Linked DNA regions of Homo sapiens: region 2 is linked to region 1. Evidence: fine-mapped expression QTL. Tissue or cell type: whole blood. Region 1 holds a variant in brackets; the other region holds the start of a gene. All regions are shown on one strand. Distances are between the middles of the regions.

Evidence for each region. PIP is the estimated chance that this variant, and not a neighbour inherited with it, causes the effect.
Region 2: it holds the start of ZNF770, and the variant in region 1 is fine-mapped to the expression of ZNF770 in whole blood (INTERVAL, PIP above 0.99).

Annotation. Positions count from the first base shown.
Region 1 is chr15:35,015,980-35,024,084 of GRCh38, forward strand. LOC105370763 (a long non-coding RNA gene) reads right to left here and starts at 811. Exons shown (of 3, transcript XR_932098.3): 1 at 1-811. RefSeq lists an enhancer at 4,151-4,843. The variant G/A (reference allele first, on the strand shown) is at 4,475.
Region 2 is chr15:34,985,009-34,993,113 of GRCh38, forward strand. It overlaps ZNF770 (zinc finger protein 770), which reads right to left and starts at 3,279. Exons shown (of 3, transcript NM_014106.4): 1 at 3,108-3,279; 2 at 2,549-2,665. LOC105370764 (a long non-coding RNA gene) reads left to right here and starts at 3,350. Exons shown (of 5, transcript NR_188212.1): 1 at 3,350-3,476; 2 at 4,677-4,802. RefSeq lists enhancers at 142-794, 1,778-1,837, 1,918-1,967, 3,374-3,463.

The DNA of each region.
Region 1 (8,105 bases):
AACAAGTTATTTTTTTAAATTGGGAAGGTTCAGAGATGTTCTAAAAGAGCATCTAAGGAACAAGTCTGTTTAAAATTATTTCATGTCAGAAATAGAAGGAATCCTCAAAATCCTCTAATAAAGATGGAATGTGATCACAGAGACAAGAAACTTGTCCAAGGTCAGACTGAAGTTAGTAACAGAGCTCAGCCCCAAAACTTGGAACTTGGGCTTCTAGGTCCTCAGGCCTGAGTCTTTCCTTAAAGTGGTGCTGTATTCCTTTGAAGTATAGCTTTAAGCAACATGAAAGAAGGACGGTCATAGGGTAGTTCTTATTCTGTAAGTATATCTTTTCACCTATGTGATCAAGCACAGCTACAAATACCAACAATTTCTACTGAAAATCAAAGACCAATCAGCCTGCGTGTGTGTGTGTGAGAGAGAGACAGACAGACAGAGAGAGAGAGAGAGAGAGAGAGAGAGAGAGAGAGACAGAGGGAGAGAGAGAGACTGGAAATCAAGTAAAGAAAGGGAAGCACTAAAATGTAAATGCTGGGGCTGATGTCTTGATGAATATGCCAAGCACTGGAGAAACTTTATTTTGTTTTATGAATCAAACCAGGAAGGGATATTATCAGTATAAGGTGTTTCAGTTGGGGAAGTTGGTGCAATGAGAAGAGGCAGAAATGAAGATGGGAGTTACAGGGGTTCCTCACTCCCACTTACCCCAACTTTGGGACCACATACATACTCCACTCATATTCTCCCACATTGTTGGTAATGCTTGCTTTTATTATTTATTTATTTATTTGAGACAGAGTTTCACTCTTGTTGCCCAGGCTGGAGTGCAGTGGTGCAGTCTCAGCTCACTGCAACCTCTGCCTCCCAGGTTCAAGCGATTTTCCTGCCTCAGCCTCCCAGGTAGCTGAGATTACAGGTACATGCCACTATGCCTGCCTTATTTTTGTAGTGTTTTTTTTTTTTTTTTTTAGTAGAGATGGGGTTTCACCATGTTGGTCAGGCTAGTCTCAAATGCCTGACCTCAGGTGACCCACCTGCCTCTGCCTCCCAAAGTGTTGGGATTACAGGCATGAGCCACTGCACCCAGCCAATGCTTACTTTTAAAATAAAGGCCAGGGCCAGGTGCGGTGGCTCATGACTGTAATCCCAGCACTTTGGGAGGCTGAGGTGGGCGGATCACCTGAGATCAGGAGTTTGAGACCAGACTGGCCAACATGGTGAAACCCCATCTCTACTAAAAATACAAAAATTAGCTGCGGATGGTGGTGCAGCCTGTAATCCCAGCTATGTGGGAGGCTGAGACAGGAGAATTGCTTGAACCCAGGAGGCGGAGGTTGCAGTGAATCGAGATCATGCCACTGCACTCCTGCCTGGGTGACAGAGCGAGACTCCATCTCAAAAAAATGAATAAATAAATAAATAAATAAATAAAATAAAGGCCAGGAAATAAAATGTATTGAAGTGGCAAATATGCTCTAAGCATTGATTAATAGTGTTACAACAAATTAATATTTGTGGTCTATGAAAAAGGGAATTAGACTGTAGTATAGAATTTGTATTCCAGTTCCAGCCCTGCAGCAAGCCCTTTAACCTCTTTAAGTCAGTTTTCCCAAAGATAAAGTGTAAACAAGAAACTTAGCTCTTAATATTTATGGCAGAAAAAATGAAAAAAAAAAAACCTCAAAAGTCCAACAACAGGGAAATAAATTATAGAATATTTATATGCTAGAGTATTGTTAACAATAAAAATTTAGTTTTGAAAATTGTTAGCAATATACTAAAGATTCACAATATAATATTGTGAAAAAACATGATTTAGAAACAGTCTATTGAATTATGCAAATTTTACTAAATATTCTTTCAAGCATATAAAATACTTGAAAGAAATAAATCAAAATGTTAATTTTATTATTTCATGGTGGTGATTAGAGATGGTTTAACTTTTCTTCTTTACATAGTATATTTGTTATTTTCTGAATTGTGTTTAATGAACATATACCAATTTTACCATCAGAAAAGATGTTGTTTTTAATAAAACAATGTGCTTTAGCTTAGTTTATAAGGATATTTAGAGGAAAATGGAAACAAGTTTGAATACTCTCGATTCTGACAAAAATGTGCTAAGCAATCCCAGTACTTATGTTAAAGGGAATTTTTTTTTTTAATTTTTAATTTTTTTTTTTTTTGAGATGGAGTCTCACTCTGTCGCCCAGGCTAGAGTGCAGGGGCATGATCTCGGCTCACTGCAACCTCTGCCTCCCAGGTTCAAGTGATTCTCCTGCCTCAGGCTCCCAAGTAGCTGGGATTACAGGCATGCACCACCATGCCCAGCTAATTTTTGTATTTTTAGTAGAGACGGGGTTTCACCACGTTGTCCAGGCTGGTCATGAACTCCTGAGCTCAGGCAATCCACCCGCCTCAGCCTACCAAAATGCTGGGATTACAGGCGTGAGCCACTGCACCCAGCGTTTAAAGGGAATTCTGATGTTTGTTTCCATAGACAGTTTTTTTCTTAGTAAGGAATGGATGTAGGCACGGTGCGGTAGCTCACGCCTGTAATCCCAGCTCTTTGGAAAGCAGAGGTGGGCGGATCCCGAGGTCAGGAGATGGAGACCATCCTGGTTAACACGGTGAAACCCCGTCTCTACTAAAAGTACAAAAAAATTAGCCGGGCGTGGTGGTCGGCGCCTGTAGTCCCAGCTACTCGGGAGGCTGAGGCAGGAGAATGGAATGAACCTGGGAGGCGGAGCTTGCAGTGAGCCGAGATCGCGCCACTGCACTCCAGCCTGGGCGACAGAGCGAGACTCCGTCTCAAAATAAAAAATAAAAAAATAAATAAATAAAAGAATGGATGTGCTTGGAAGTGATCCCCCCAATCATTAGGGGAACACAGTGTATGTGCCACCACTACCTTAGAACTATTTCTGTGTGCTGAGCCTGGTGTTCAAGAAAAAGTCAAATTGACCCTCATCAGCCTACAGCAACTTTATCCATTCACTAGGAGGGATGACCAGCTCCTTGGGAAGATTTTTGTGCCTGAGGTGGGGCCTCAGACAGGGGTGGGAAATGTTTAAACAGACTCCTTTTCCCATGGCTTCAATTTCAGTCCCTCTTCTCAGCAGGGAGTGACCACTGTCTCTGTCATTCCCCACAGAAGCTGCTTATAAGATGAAAAAAGGTTAAAATACAAGTTCTTGGGAAATAAAAGCAGAGGGCAAGTAGGGCTGCAGGGGGAGCTAGTACCAGAATTGAGCTTGGCATCCTGGGAAGGTGAGGTCAGGTAAGATAGGGACTACTACTATTATAGACTACTGGGTCAAGTACTAGCTATTAATGATCTCATTTAACCCTTTAATAATATGAAGTTAGCCGTGTTATATCTTCCTCCCCGCCCCCGCCCCGCCCCCCCCCCCCCCCCCCGCTCCTCCTCCAACTGGAGTAACTGAAGCTCAGGTAAAACAAAACAAAATGAAACAAAAAACCATTTGCCAGGTTATTTCTTCCTCCCCTTCCTCCTCCTCCCCCTCCCTCCTCCTCCTCCCCCTCCCTCCTCCTCCTCCTTCTTCTCCTCCTCCTCCTTCTCCTCCTCCTTCTTCTCCTGCTCCTCCTCCTGCTCCTCCTCCTGCTCCTCCTCCTCCTCCTCCAACTGGAGTAACTGAAGCTCAGGCAAAACAAAACAAAATGAAACAAAAAACCACTTGCCAAGATCACACAGGTAAATGCTGGAGCCAGAGTTTGAATTGAGGTTTTAGTGGCTCTGAAATGTGTACTTTTTACAACAGAGTCTGGTGAGCCCCAGAGTTGTTTAATACCAGATTCACCCAGAAAGAAATTTGAAAATACAAATTCCAAAATTCCATCCCTAGAAATTCTGATTTTAATTATGTCAGGAATGGGACCAAGGAATCTGTAAGGCGTTAAGGAGGTTCGAGGACTGCAGCTCTCTTCCACATTGCTGCTCCCACATCAGCAATTAGTCAAGATGTGCTCTTGTGCATGGGCCTGAAGACTCAGCCCAGTGAGTGAGCTATGTGTGAACTTCACACTCTTGGCCCCTGCCAGTTCCTCAGCCTCATATCTCCCTCCCACCAAGTCAGAATTTGGGAAAGCCAGCCAGTCAGGAAGAGTGCTAAAACAAAAAATATAAATACAATGAGATAGAAATAATGAAGCTTCGACAAGGTGAGGTGGCTCACACCTGTAATCCCAACACTTTGGGAAGCCGAAGTGGGCAGATCACGAGGTCAGGGGTTCAAGACCAGCCTGGCCAACATAGTGAAACCCCATCTCTACTAAAAATACAAAAAAATTAGCCAGGGGTGGTAGCGGGTGCCTGTAATCTCAGCTACTTGGGAGGTTAAGGCAAGGAGAATCACTTGAACCTGGGAGGCAGAGGTTGCAGTGAGCCGAGATTGCGCCACTGCACTCCAGCCCGGGTGACAGTGTGAGACTCCGTCTCAGAAAAAAAAAAAAA[G/A]AAGAAGAAGCTTCTTAGGGTGGTGACTGGGAGGAGGGGACAAGCACCCCATGGAGTTGCTTCAGTCACAATCAATGGTCATTTAACTGCGTCTAAGGAGGTCAGGTCTTAGGTGCAGGCCTTTTGTTTGGCTGATTTGCTTTGCAGATTTGGGTCCAAGGCATGCAAATGTCCCTGTTTAGGATCACAAAGGAGTCACTGGGGAGCCACCAGCATTCTCTCCACTACATTTCACATCTTCTCCAGACTTAATAAACCTTTCCTTTAAATAAATATTTTTAAGATATGTCAAAAAGAGCCGGGCGCGGTGGCTCACACCTGTAATCCCAGCACTTTGGGAGGCTGAGGCGGGTGGATCACAAGGTCAGGAGATCGAGACCATCCTGGCTAATACGGTGAAACCCCGTCTCTACTAAAAAAATACAAAAAATTAGCCAGGCGTGGTGGCGGGTGCCTGTAGTCCCAGCTACTCGGGAGGCTGAGGCAGGAGAATGGCTTGAACCTGGGAGGCGGGAGGCAGAGCTTGCAGTGAGCGGAGATCGTGCCTCTGCTCTCCAGCCTGGGTGTTAGAGCGAGACTCCATCTCAAAAAAAAAAAAAAAAGATATGTCAAAAAGATTAGTTTGAAGAGGCACAAAATTACTGACCTGTCTCATGCATCCCTGCATTTTAGTTCTGCTCTGTCTCATCCCATCCCCGCATTACCTCTGTTCTCCTCCAGGCCTTTGCACACCATTCCCACCACCTGGAACACTCTTCTGCCTGCTCGCTCTCTCTACACCTATCTATCTCATTCTTATTCATCTTTTAGGTCTAGGCTTAAACATTGCTTTCTCTGGGAGCCTTCCTCAACATAGAGGTTAGAGACTCTTAGTGTATGTTCTGACACCTATCACCACACTCATCAGATTTCATCGTCATTACATATTTAATTATCTGTTTCCCCCTAAACTGTGAGCTCTCTGAAGACAGGACTTTTGTTGTTTTGTCCATCACTGTTTCTTCATAGCTAGTCCAACGTTCATGAAATCTGTACTGAGTGATTGAATGAGCCGAGAGTCTGAGGCTATGTACATAGTGAGCCCCTTACTTAGAAGGATTAAAAGTTGGGACTGGAACTGTGATCAGTTCATAGGAACTCCAGTGTATAGATTCTCTAACTTTACCAAAGCTCAACCTTATCCAGATTATGGTGCCAAGAATCCTGGGATGCAAATCAGAAATATAAGATCCAGCGAAGTTGTGTAACCTTTTGCCAGTTGTTTAACCTCTTCAACCACTCCCAGCTTTTCTGAGTAGCAAACTGTAGGAAAGTACAGTGCTTTGAAACAATACAAATATGAGTCTCCTTTTGTGGAGACATAGAAGAGATGTGTCATCTTTAAAGGGACCACTTTCTGGTTTCCATTTTTCCCACCTCAAGCCATACCTCTGGGAGGGTAAGCACAGTCAGTACAGTGGAGGCTCTCATCAACGCCACTCACCACTGCCATTATCTGGCTGATTAATACAGTTTGTGTTATTGCAAAGGAAAGGGGAGGAGGAGAGAGAACAACGTGGCAGCATTTGTGGTATAAGAATGTGGTAGATCTGTCAAAAACACTTTCCAGATTCCTCATTCTCTAGGGGACAATTTTTCTGCTGGTATTTTGAGATCTCAAAATTAAATACCTGTGCCAGAACTGCCATCTCTAAGGTGACAATACTAGAAATCTCCCTCGGCTTCTTAACATGAGAGGTTTTAAATATTAGCTGCCTTAATGAAGTACCATATGGATAACATTTTAGGACAGGCAGTCAAATTGTGACAAAAAAAAAAAAACAAAAAATGATTAACTGCAAAAGCAAGAAAAAGAATTTGAAGTAGGGTTGCCAGATTTAGCAAGTAAAAATATTTGAGAAATAATTGCACTAAAAAAGTATTAATTGTTGGCCAGGCACGGTGGCTCACGCCTGTAATCTCAGCACTTTGGGAGGCCAAGGCAGGCGGATCACCTGAGGCCAGGAGTTCAACACCAGCCTGGCCAACATGGTGAAACCCCATCTCTACTAAAAATACAAAATTAGCCGGATGTGGTGGCAGGCCCCTGTAATCCCAGCTACTTGGGAGGCTGAGGCAGGAGAATCGCTTGAACCGTGTGTGGCTGGTATTTCTTTAATGTTATCAAATACCTAATGAGGGTTCAAGTTTCTGATTGTCTAAAAAAATTTTAAAAGTTTTTGCTTTTTAAAAAAATCACAAACCAAATAAAGTCCCTTTGTTTGTAATTTGTTCATAAGTTTCTCCTTCCTTCCTCTCTCTCTCTTTTCCCTTGCAAGCTATATGTTGAAGAAATTCGGTTGTCCAGTTGAGTCTCTTACATTCTGGATTTTTCTGATTGTATCCTCTGCGTATTTGTATCTCTTATAAACTGTTAGCTGGATTTAGAGATTTAGTCTGATTCAGTTTAAAATTTTTTGCAAGAATACCTTCAGGTGGTGGTGTGTACTTCCATCAGGAGGCATATAATATCTAGTGGTCTCTCTTTTTGTGATATTAGCAGCCACTGATGATCATTGCCTAGAGTATGTAATTAGAAATTTGCAAAGTGGTCTTATTCTTTTTTTTTTTTTTTGACACGGAGTCTCTCTCTGTCGCCCAGGCTGGAATGCAGTGGCATGATCTCGGCTCACTGCAACCTCTGCCTCCTGGGTTCAAATGATTCTCCTGCCTCAGCCTCCTGAGTAGCTGGGACTACAGGTGCATGTCACCACTGCTAGCCAATTTTTTATAGTTTTAGTAGAGACGGGGTTTCACTGTGTTAGCCAGTATGGTCTTGATCTCCTGACCTCATGATCCACCCACCTCGGCCTCCAAAAGTGCTGGGATTACAGGTGTGAGCCAGCCACCGCACCCGGCCAGTGGTGTTATTCTTATATCGTTGTTTCTCTATTTATTCTTTTTCCTTCGTGTGTGTGTGTGTGTGTGTTTAGTAGAGACAGGGTTTTGCTATGTTGCCAGGCTGGTCTTGAACTCCTGGCCTCAACTGAGCCGCCCGCCTTGGCCTCCAAAGTGCTGGGATTACAGGCATGAGCCACCGTGCCCTGCCATTATTGATTCTTTTTTCATTACAAATTTATTTTTTAATTATTATTTTCCTTTTTGGTATTGCTCCTTGTGGAGCAGGGATAACCCATAGGCAGTGTGCCCAGAGTAGTCTCTATTTATTCTTGAGAGAACCTTCCCTCATCAACTATTTTGTTACCCTGAGGTGTATTTCATGTGGGAAAGTATCATAGCTCAGTTTCTAGGAGAACAGACTCTGAGATGAAAATTGCATGTCACAGGTTTAAAGCAGGAAGCCCTAGGGAACAACACCTGTAAGAAAGTGAGGAAAGTGCTGGACAGAGTGAGAAAGAAGTTGAACTGTGATGGAATTTTAAAGAACCCAGACAATCCTACAGTGAGCTTTAAAGCCGGCATAGCTCCTCAAAGTTAAGGCTGTGCCTTTATACCCTCCACCCCGCCCATGCATTGACTAATCACTGTGGGCTGACCTTGGGTTGAGGATGTAATCTTGAGTAAGACAGCTCCCCTTACCCAATAACAATTCCTGGGAGTGGCTCAGCTGAGGAACTTTAGCAGTGGAGGC
Region 2 (8,105 bases), 31 kb before region 1:
TGTTAATTCCAGCTACTTGGGAGGCTGCAGCACGATAATTGCTTGAACTGGGGAGGCGGAGGTTGCACTGAGCCAAGATTGCACCACTGCACTCCAGCTTGGGCAACAGAGCGAGAGACTGTCTCAAAAAAAAAAAAAAAAAAAAGTTTAGCAAGCACTTTCATAACTATCTTATACTCTATCTTCTATCAGAGAAGCCAATTTTCTTTTCATTATTACTTTACTATGGCACTGCCCTTAAATAAAGGAGTCAGAGATTTTTTCAAAAAAAAATTAAAAGCTGTGCTAGCTCTTTCAATATAATGTATCTTCTAGATCAGAGAGTTCTAAGTCTGGAGTTCTTTTGTCAGCTGATCTGGCAAACATCCAACAAACACGGTGTTACTATTTTCTCCTAGAAGATACCTTCAACCCCAAATCACAAACATACCCACTGTGGTTCTTTAGCAATGTGAATCAGAAACAGAAAAAAAAAATTACTGAACAAATATCTTTAGTTACTTTATCACAGTGTTTTTCAAACTGCAGGATATTACTCATTAATGGATTGTGAATTCAACTTAGCAGATCATGATCAGCACTTTGTTATTTAAAATAAGAGCGGAGGCTGGCATAGTGGCTCATGCCTGTAATCCCAGCACTTTGTGAGGCCGAGGCAGGGGATCACCTGAGGTCAGGAGTTCGAGGCTAGCCTGGCCAACATGGTGAAACCCTGTCTCTACTAAAAATACAAAAATTAGCTGAGTGTGGTGGTACATGCCTGTAATTTCAGCTACTTGGGAGGCTGAGTCAGGAGAATTGCTTGAACCCAGGAGACGGAGGTTGCAGTGAGCCGCCAAGATTGCACCACCACACTCCAGCCTGGGAGACAGAGCAAGACTCTCAAAAAAAATTTAAAAATAAATACATAAATAAAAATAGGGGATAAATAATAGTAGAAAGTATCAGACTGCATACTATATAGCAAGGATAAATATTGTTTTGTGAAACTTCTGTAGGAAGAAGTAAAAAAGTTTATGAAAGCTGTTCTTAACATGCCTCTTCATACTAGACAAAGGAACCTACAACAAATCGACCACTTTATTCAAAGTGGCCAAGTGATCTATTAAGGTGAGAAAGATAGGGGCCCATAGTATGAGACAAGATTACTAAAGAAAGCAAGTGTCTGGTTTTCTTCACTTGACCCATATTATTCCAAAATATTTATTTTAAATAAAAATCATCTAATTACAGGCCAAATGGAAAATGCCACATAAATCCACGCAAAATAAAACAATCTGACTGTAAGCCAGTATAGTAGTAAAATATATCATATAACCCAGATATCAATGTTAACCAACAATCAACTCTTGGTGCTATGAATATGCATTTTCAGTAGCTTGAATTAGAGAAATTAGAGGTGAACAAGCTCCAAAGTCTCTAAACATGCCGATACAGAGCAACAGTCATGATAATTAAAATTAAGTCATGAATCCAGTGAACTGCAAAGAACTTGGCAGCAATTAGGTGCCAAGGTAGTCAATCAGGACAATGAGTCAAACCAAAAGTAATCAAGCCTTTATTCACTTACTGTGACAGTGCAAGCAAGTGGTAAAAAGAGGCACTGGCTCCCCAGTGGTCTACTAAATACAAGGACACTGGGTGAGGGTCAGTTGATGCAGTGCATATGAGGTAATCCTCTCACTGAAAGGAGCCCCTAACAAAAATCTCCTGCCTCTTATGGAACTTCAGAATAGGAAAGGGAGGGGAAGGTCTAGGAGTGAAAGAAGCTGGGTCAAAAATGGAGAAAAGTGTCTTAGCCACGGTCCTTCCTAGGAGGGCCTCCAAATGGAGGTACCCAGGCTAGGAAAGAAGTTATGGGATTTGCATATCTAGCAGGAGGGGCAGGGCAAGTCCTTGACTGCAACCCCCTCCAGAAAACTGCAATGCACCGGCCCATATCGAGTATGGTGTGGGAGGACAGCTTGGCCCTTGAGGCCAGTCAGGCAAAGCCTGGTAATTGTCCAATGTCAGGACTGAATGATCACACAGGATTTTGGTATAAAGCCAGATTCAATTCCTTTTGTATGTTTCTTCTTCCCTTTAATAAATGCTTTCGTGGAACACGCCTAAAAGAAAAAAATCACACACCACAACTACCTCTGATTAAAACAGGGATTGGCTACCTACAGCTCCTGTACCAAAAAGGAGCTACGGTTAATCATCCATTGTTAGCACTAAGATTGGATAACTGTTGTCACTTGCCTCCCACCACGTGGAAAAGCACTTACTGGGAGCCCTAGATTGTTAGAACCATTAGTGGCAAGTGGTGATCCTATCTCCTGTTTATGAGAGTCAGGTTAGGGATCCTCACCTCACGCACTCATGGAGCTCCAAATCCCATTTCAACCGATTTTTGTTGATAACATAAAAATAAAAAAGACTGTAATTTTTCTTATCTTAAACTGAAATAAAAGAATAGTAGATCTGCTCAGTGGTTCAATCCAGAATTTATCCTGACAAGAACAAGATACTCTACGTGAAGACTGTAAAAACTGTAAAAACTGACCTCAATAATATCCAATGTTGCCTCAAGGCTGAAAGCCTGTTGATTTTCTTGTCTTGACTAGTACCATTAAAACGATGTGAGGATTTCACGAAAGTAAGCGAACAAGAAATGAAAGACCTAAGAGAAACACACACAACTTTCAGTTGGGGAATAATCTCCGGCGGCTGCTTCTGCCCCACTCGCCCCGGGCCCATTCTCTTGGCCTTGAACCCTCACCTCTCCCTCCCAGTGGACTACACTGGACAAAGGACACTGACACACAGTCCTCGTTCTAAAGGCCCACAACCAATAATAAGCACGTAATGGTCGAGCCGAGTCCAGAAACCACAAAATCCCACGCCAGGAAAGGAAGGGTAAGGGTAAAAACTGCTTTGGCTGCAGCCAGGATGAAAACGCCACATGTGATACAACCCACAGCAACAACAAAAAAAAATCCCTCTACGCCTTCCTCTCAAATTTCTGCTCCGCGTGAGACGCACTCAATAGGTGGGGAAGTGAGAAAGCAAAAGGAGCTCAGGAACTGAGGTTGTGGAGCCCCCGTTCTTGGGTCCCCAGGCACCTTGGCGGTATTGAGGCAGGTCCGACCCTCCCTGGGGGTCGCTCCACTTCTCAGTCGGGTTTCTGAAGTCCTCCTCACGCATCTGGAGCTGGCGAGGGCCCGGGAGGCACGCACCTCAGGCCCAGGTGCCGCGAAGGCAGCGCGCGCACGTCCGCAGGGCCGGCGCGGCAACGGGCTGAGCGCGCAGGCGCGGCGCTCTGGCGCGCCCAGGGACACAGTCCGGCTGGAAACAAGCTCCCCCCAATTTCAGGGCCGTTGTCGCCTCCGGGCGGTCCGCGGGTCCCGAGCGGACTGGGACTCTGGAGACGTGCCCCCAACCCCACCGCCATTCACCCTGTCATTGCAGGGGAGAGAACAGAATAAAGACGGGTACATTTTCCATCTCACCTCTGAACCTCGGTTAGGAAAACGCTGTAGCCCTGACTAGTGGGCTCAAGGGCCGACTGGAAAAGGGCGAGTCAGCGTTCAAAGCCGATTCGGGGCAGCCCTCTCTAACGCAGAGGGCCGAGGATAAGAAGACGACAATGTGTTAGGGGCCCTCCGGGCTAGGACTGTCCTCACCACTTTGTACATTGCCAAAGTAAATATAACGTAGAGGTCAAGCGCAGGCGCTTTGTGGGCAGACATGACTGAGCTCCACTCGCGACTCCTCTAATGGCGTGCCAGCTGCGGACCTCATTAGCCCCGCCTCAATCATTCAGTATGTTTTGGTTGTCTACAGTGTACGAAGCCCTGTTCTCACAATTAGATAAAATGAGTGTGAAGTGCTCAACATAATTCCTAGTGTAGTAGGCCTTCAAAGAACTATTATCATTATTAATTACTCATATAGAATACAACTTTATGAAATGATAGGATCCCATTTTAAGATGAGGAAAATGAGGCTATCAGAGACGTTAAGGAACTTAATGTCACACAGTTAATAAACGATAGAGGTGCGATTTGAACACAGGTTGTCTAATACCAGACCTGCATTTATAACTGCTGCTTCCCAAGTTATAGATATTTCAGCATTTTATGTAGTCACAATTGAAGACCAAATATTTAGTTACAGACTAAGTTGGCATGTTATTACTGAATAAGATGCTAAGGTATCTACTAAAGATTTTAAGTGCAAAAGGCATTAGAGAAGAATTTACTGTGGATTTTTTGCAGGTTCTGATTGTAATTGTATCACCTTGAGAAAGGAGGAAATGAAAGCAGATTATCAGGCATACTTTTTTAACTCTAAGCAACTTTTTGCATTACTTTCTAAGGACCATCAGCAACAAAAATCAATGGTTTCTAATGTTGATATATTTTCCTCTACCAAAAAAATTAAAGCAGCTGAGCCAACAAAAATTCTCTGTTTTGGATGTGTTAGCATGAGGAAATGGCGAATAGGAAATGAGCTTTTGCTTCTCATGTAGGAACCCTGAAGGAGTCAGATTTGGGAGGGGTTGAAGTCTGCTTCCAACAGAAGCAGGGGTGGAGAAGGGAAAGGAAAGACTTCTGGTGTCCTAAATGCTAGTCCCAAAGTGGGGATGCTGTTTGTCCGGATAACCCTTGTAAATCTGCTCCATTCTGCAGCTACTCCTGGGAAACTTAACTCAGCCAAATAATGCAAACAATTGCATCCATCATCAGCCACATCAGCCTTAGGAGATACATCCATATCATGAGAAAACACTACCTGAAATTGGGGACCACTGGAGGGTGAGATTCGTTCTTTATCCATTACCTGCAAAACAAATTGGCCTTTGCATGGAGAGTCTGAATATATATTGAGTGTGAAAGCAGTTAGGACTTGAATAGGCTATTCTCCAAGGCCACATGCCCCATGTCATAACCTCCCCCATTTACCGTGAGAGCTATCTCAGGAGCCTTCTGGAAAAAAAAGAGAAATTAACATGAATAAGAGTAATCAAGGAAGATTTCATTGAATATGTGAAATTTGAACTAGCAGTAGTGGGTAGACTATGAATAAATAAAAAATGTGGGGGCAGGACAGAACATGGTAGGGCAGAGGTGGCAGGGTGAAGAAAAGATAGTATGAGAATGAAAAATAAAGGGGGTGCATGACATACGTTTGAATTAGTATCTTAATGCTGCAGCTTACTAGTTGTGTCCTTAGAAGTTATTTAACCTAGGCTGGGCGCGGTGGCTCACACCTGTAATCCCAGCACTTAGGGAGGCCGAGGCGGGTAGATCATGGGTCAGGAGTTCGAGACCAGCCTGGCCAACATTGTGAAACCCTGTCTCTACTAAAAATACAAAAATTAGCCGGGCGTGGTGGCACGTGCCTGTAGTCCCAGCTACTCAGGAGGCTGAGGTGGGAGGATTGCTCTAGCCCAGGAGTTAAAGGCTGTAGTGAGCCGTGTTCATGCCACTGCACTCCAGCCTGGATGACAGAGCAAGACTCTGTCTTAAATAAATAATAATAAAAATAGAAAAGATGTGCCACTGCACTCTAGCCTGGGCGACAGAGCGAGACTCTGTTTCAAAAAAAGAAAAAGAAGAAAAGACATATCAGGTACCAAGCTCTAAATATTCACTTCCAATTATATAAAGATGAAGCAGTTAGGCCCTGAACCTTAAATTAGTTTCTAGCCCAGAGGGGAAAATAACATACAAACAAGTATTAATACAATATGATAAGAGCAGATATATATAGGAGGAAAGAACATCTAAATCTGCTTGGAGGTTCCAGGTACAGATGGTCCCTGAGCTGCAGCTTCAATCAGCCATCTATCCATCCATCCGTTCTGCATATATTAAGCACTCGCTGTGTATCAAGTCCTGTTCTAGGCAAGGGGGACAGAGTAGCAGACAAAAAGTCAAAAATCCATGTCTTCATAGATTTTATATTCTACTGAAGGAGACAGACAACAGATCAAATAAGTTAAAATATATAATATGTTAAATATTAGTAAGAACTGAGGAGAAAAGCACAGAAGAGGGCTGTGAAGATTTGAGGGTGTGGGTGGGGATGCTGGCATTTTAGTAGATGGCCAGAGATGGCCTTAATGAGAAGTTCTGTGATTTTTTTTTTTTTTAATACAGAGTCTTGCTCTGTCACTCAGGCTGCAGTGCATTGGCACGATCTCAGCTCACTGCAACCTCTGCCTCCCAGGTTCAAGTGATGCTCCTGCCTCAGCCTCCCAAGTAGCTGGGACTGTAGGTGCCTGCCACCATGCCCGGCTAATTTTCGCATTTTTAGTATTTCGCATTTTTAGCACCATGTTGGCCAGGCTGGTCTTGAACTCCTGATCTCAGGTGATTCATCTGCCTCGGCCTCCCAAAGTGCTGGGATTACAGGCATGAGCCACTGCACTCAGCCTAGTTCTGTGATTGTTGAGTTGAAACCTGGTGGAAATGAGAGACTGCCTTTCCCATGGGAGACAGTAGGAGGCAGGGATAAAAATGAGTAGTAACTTGCTTAGTGGGCAAGAGAGTGTGTTTTTGGAGGAGGGTGGGGAAAGGAAAGATAGGCAGAGAATATTCCAACCACAACAGACACACAGTGAGAAAAGGCATGGCAAACAGGAAATACAAGTAGTTGCTGGAGTGTGAAGTACAGGTTGGGAAAGTGGGGAGTGGCAGGAGAGTCACTCACGCAGGAAATAATTTGGAGCACCTACTGCTCACCAGGTTCTTAACAAGAAGCTCAGAAAGTTGTTATATGCAAATGTTTTCTTTTTAAAAATTTTCTTCTTCTTTTTCTATCTTTTATCCAAATAATTGTACTTGATTCTCTAGTTTCTCTTCAGATCCTATAAATCTTTCATCTTTTACCAAAATAATTGTACTTCAAAGGAGTCCATAATTTTAGGATATTTTGTATGTTTTTTGGAATATTTTAAAAACAGAGTTTTTTTTTAACTTTTTTTTGAGATGGAGTTCTGCTCTTGTTGCCCAACCTGGAGTGCAATGGCACGATCTCGGCTTACTACACCCTCCGGCTCCTAGGTTCAAGCGATTCTCCTGCCTCAGCCTCCCGAGTAACTGGGATTATAGGCACGCGCCTCCACGCCTGGCTAATTTTTTTTTTTTTTTTTTTTTTTTTTTTTTTTTTTTTTTGTAGAAACGGAGTTTCACCATGTTAGCCAGGCTGGTCTCAAACTCCTGACCTCAGGTGATCCGCCCACCTTGGCCTCCCAAAGTGCTGGGATTACAGGCATGAGCCACCATACCCGGCTAAAAAACAGACACTTTTTGAAATTGACTTTTAATGGTGTTAAAGCTGCCTTCTGCCCTAAGTGACAGGCTGGCAAGGAGCTCACATCTCCTGGTTCCATCCCGTCTCTCTTATCTTTCCTTTCTCCTCTTCCCATTCCCTCTGTGGAACAACATACAAAGTCATCTGCTTGCCTTCTGCAGATAGTCCACCCAAATCTGTACCCCTCAGGTGTTAGTTTCTACCCCCAAGCAACTGTCAAAGAATTTTTTCAACAAAGAAATCCTTCTTTCTTTCTTTTTTTTTTTGGGGGGAGGGGAGATGGAGTTTTGCTCTTGTTGCCCAGGCTGGAATGCAATGGCGTGATCTTGACTCACCGCAACCTCCGCCTCCCGGGTTCAAGTGATTCTCCTCCCTCAGCCTCCCGATTAGCTGGGATTACAGGCATGCGCCACCGTGCCCAGCTAATTTTGTATTTTTAATAGAGACGGGGTTTCACCATGTTGGTCAGGCTGGTCTCGAATTCCGGACCTGAGGTTATCTGCCCACCTTGGCCTCCCAAAGTAGAAATCCTTATTTCTTAAGATGATTTTTGGTGAATAGAACCCTCTCCTTCCCATCATATACTGTACTTCCTTGAGAATAATACTTGCAACTTCTTGTACATTGTGCTACACAACTTCTGAGAGCATTGTGGTGTAGGAGTGGGGCAGCTGGGAGCAGGGAGAGGGTGGAGGATAAGTTGAGATCAGAAGATGAAGCACAATACGGCTGTACTGTATTTTACTTAGGACAGTTGGACTGTCTACAGCTCACAGGCTAGCCCCAGTCTCCTAAAGGAT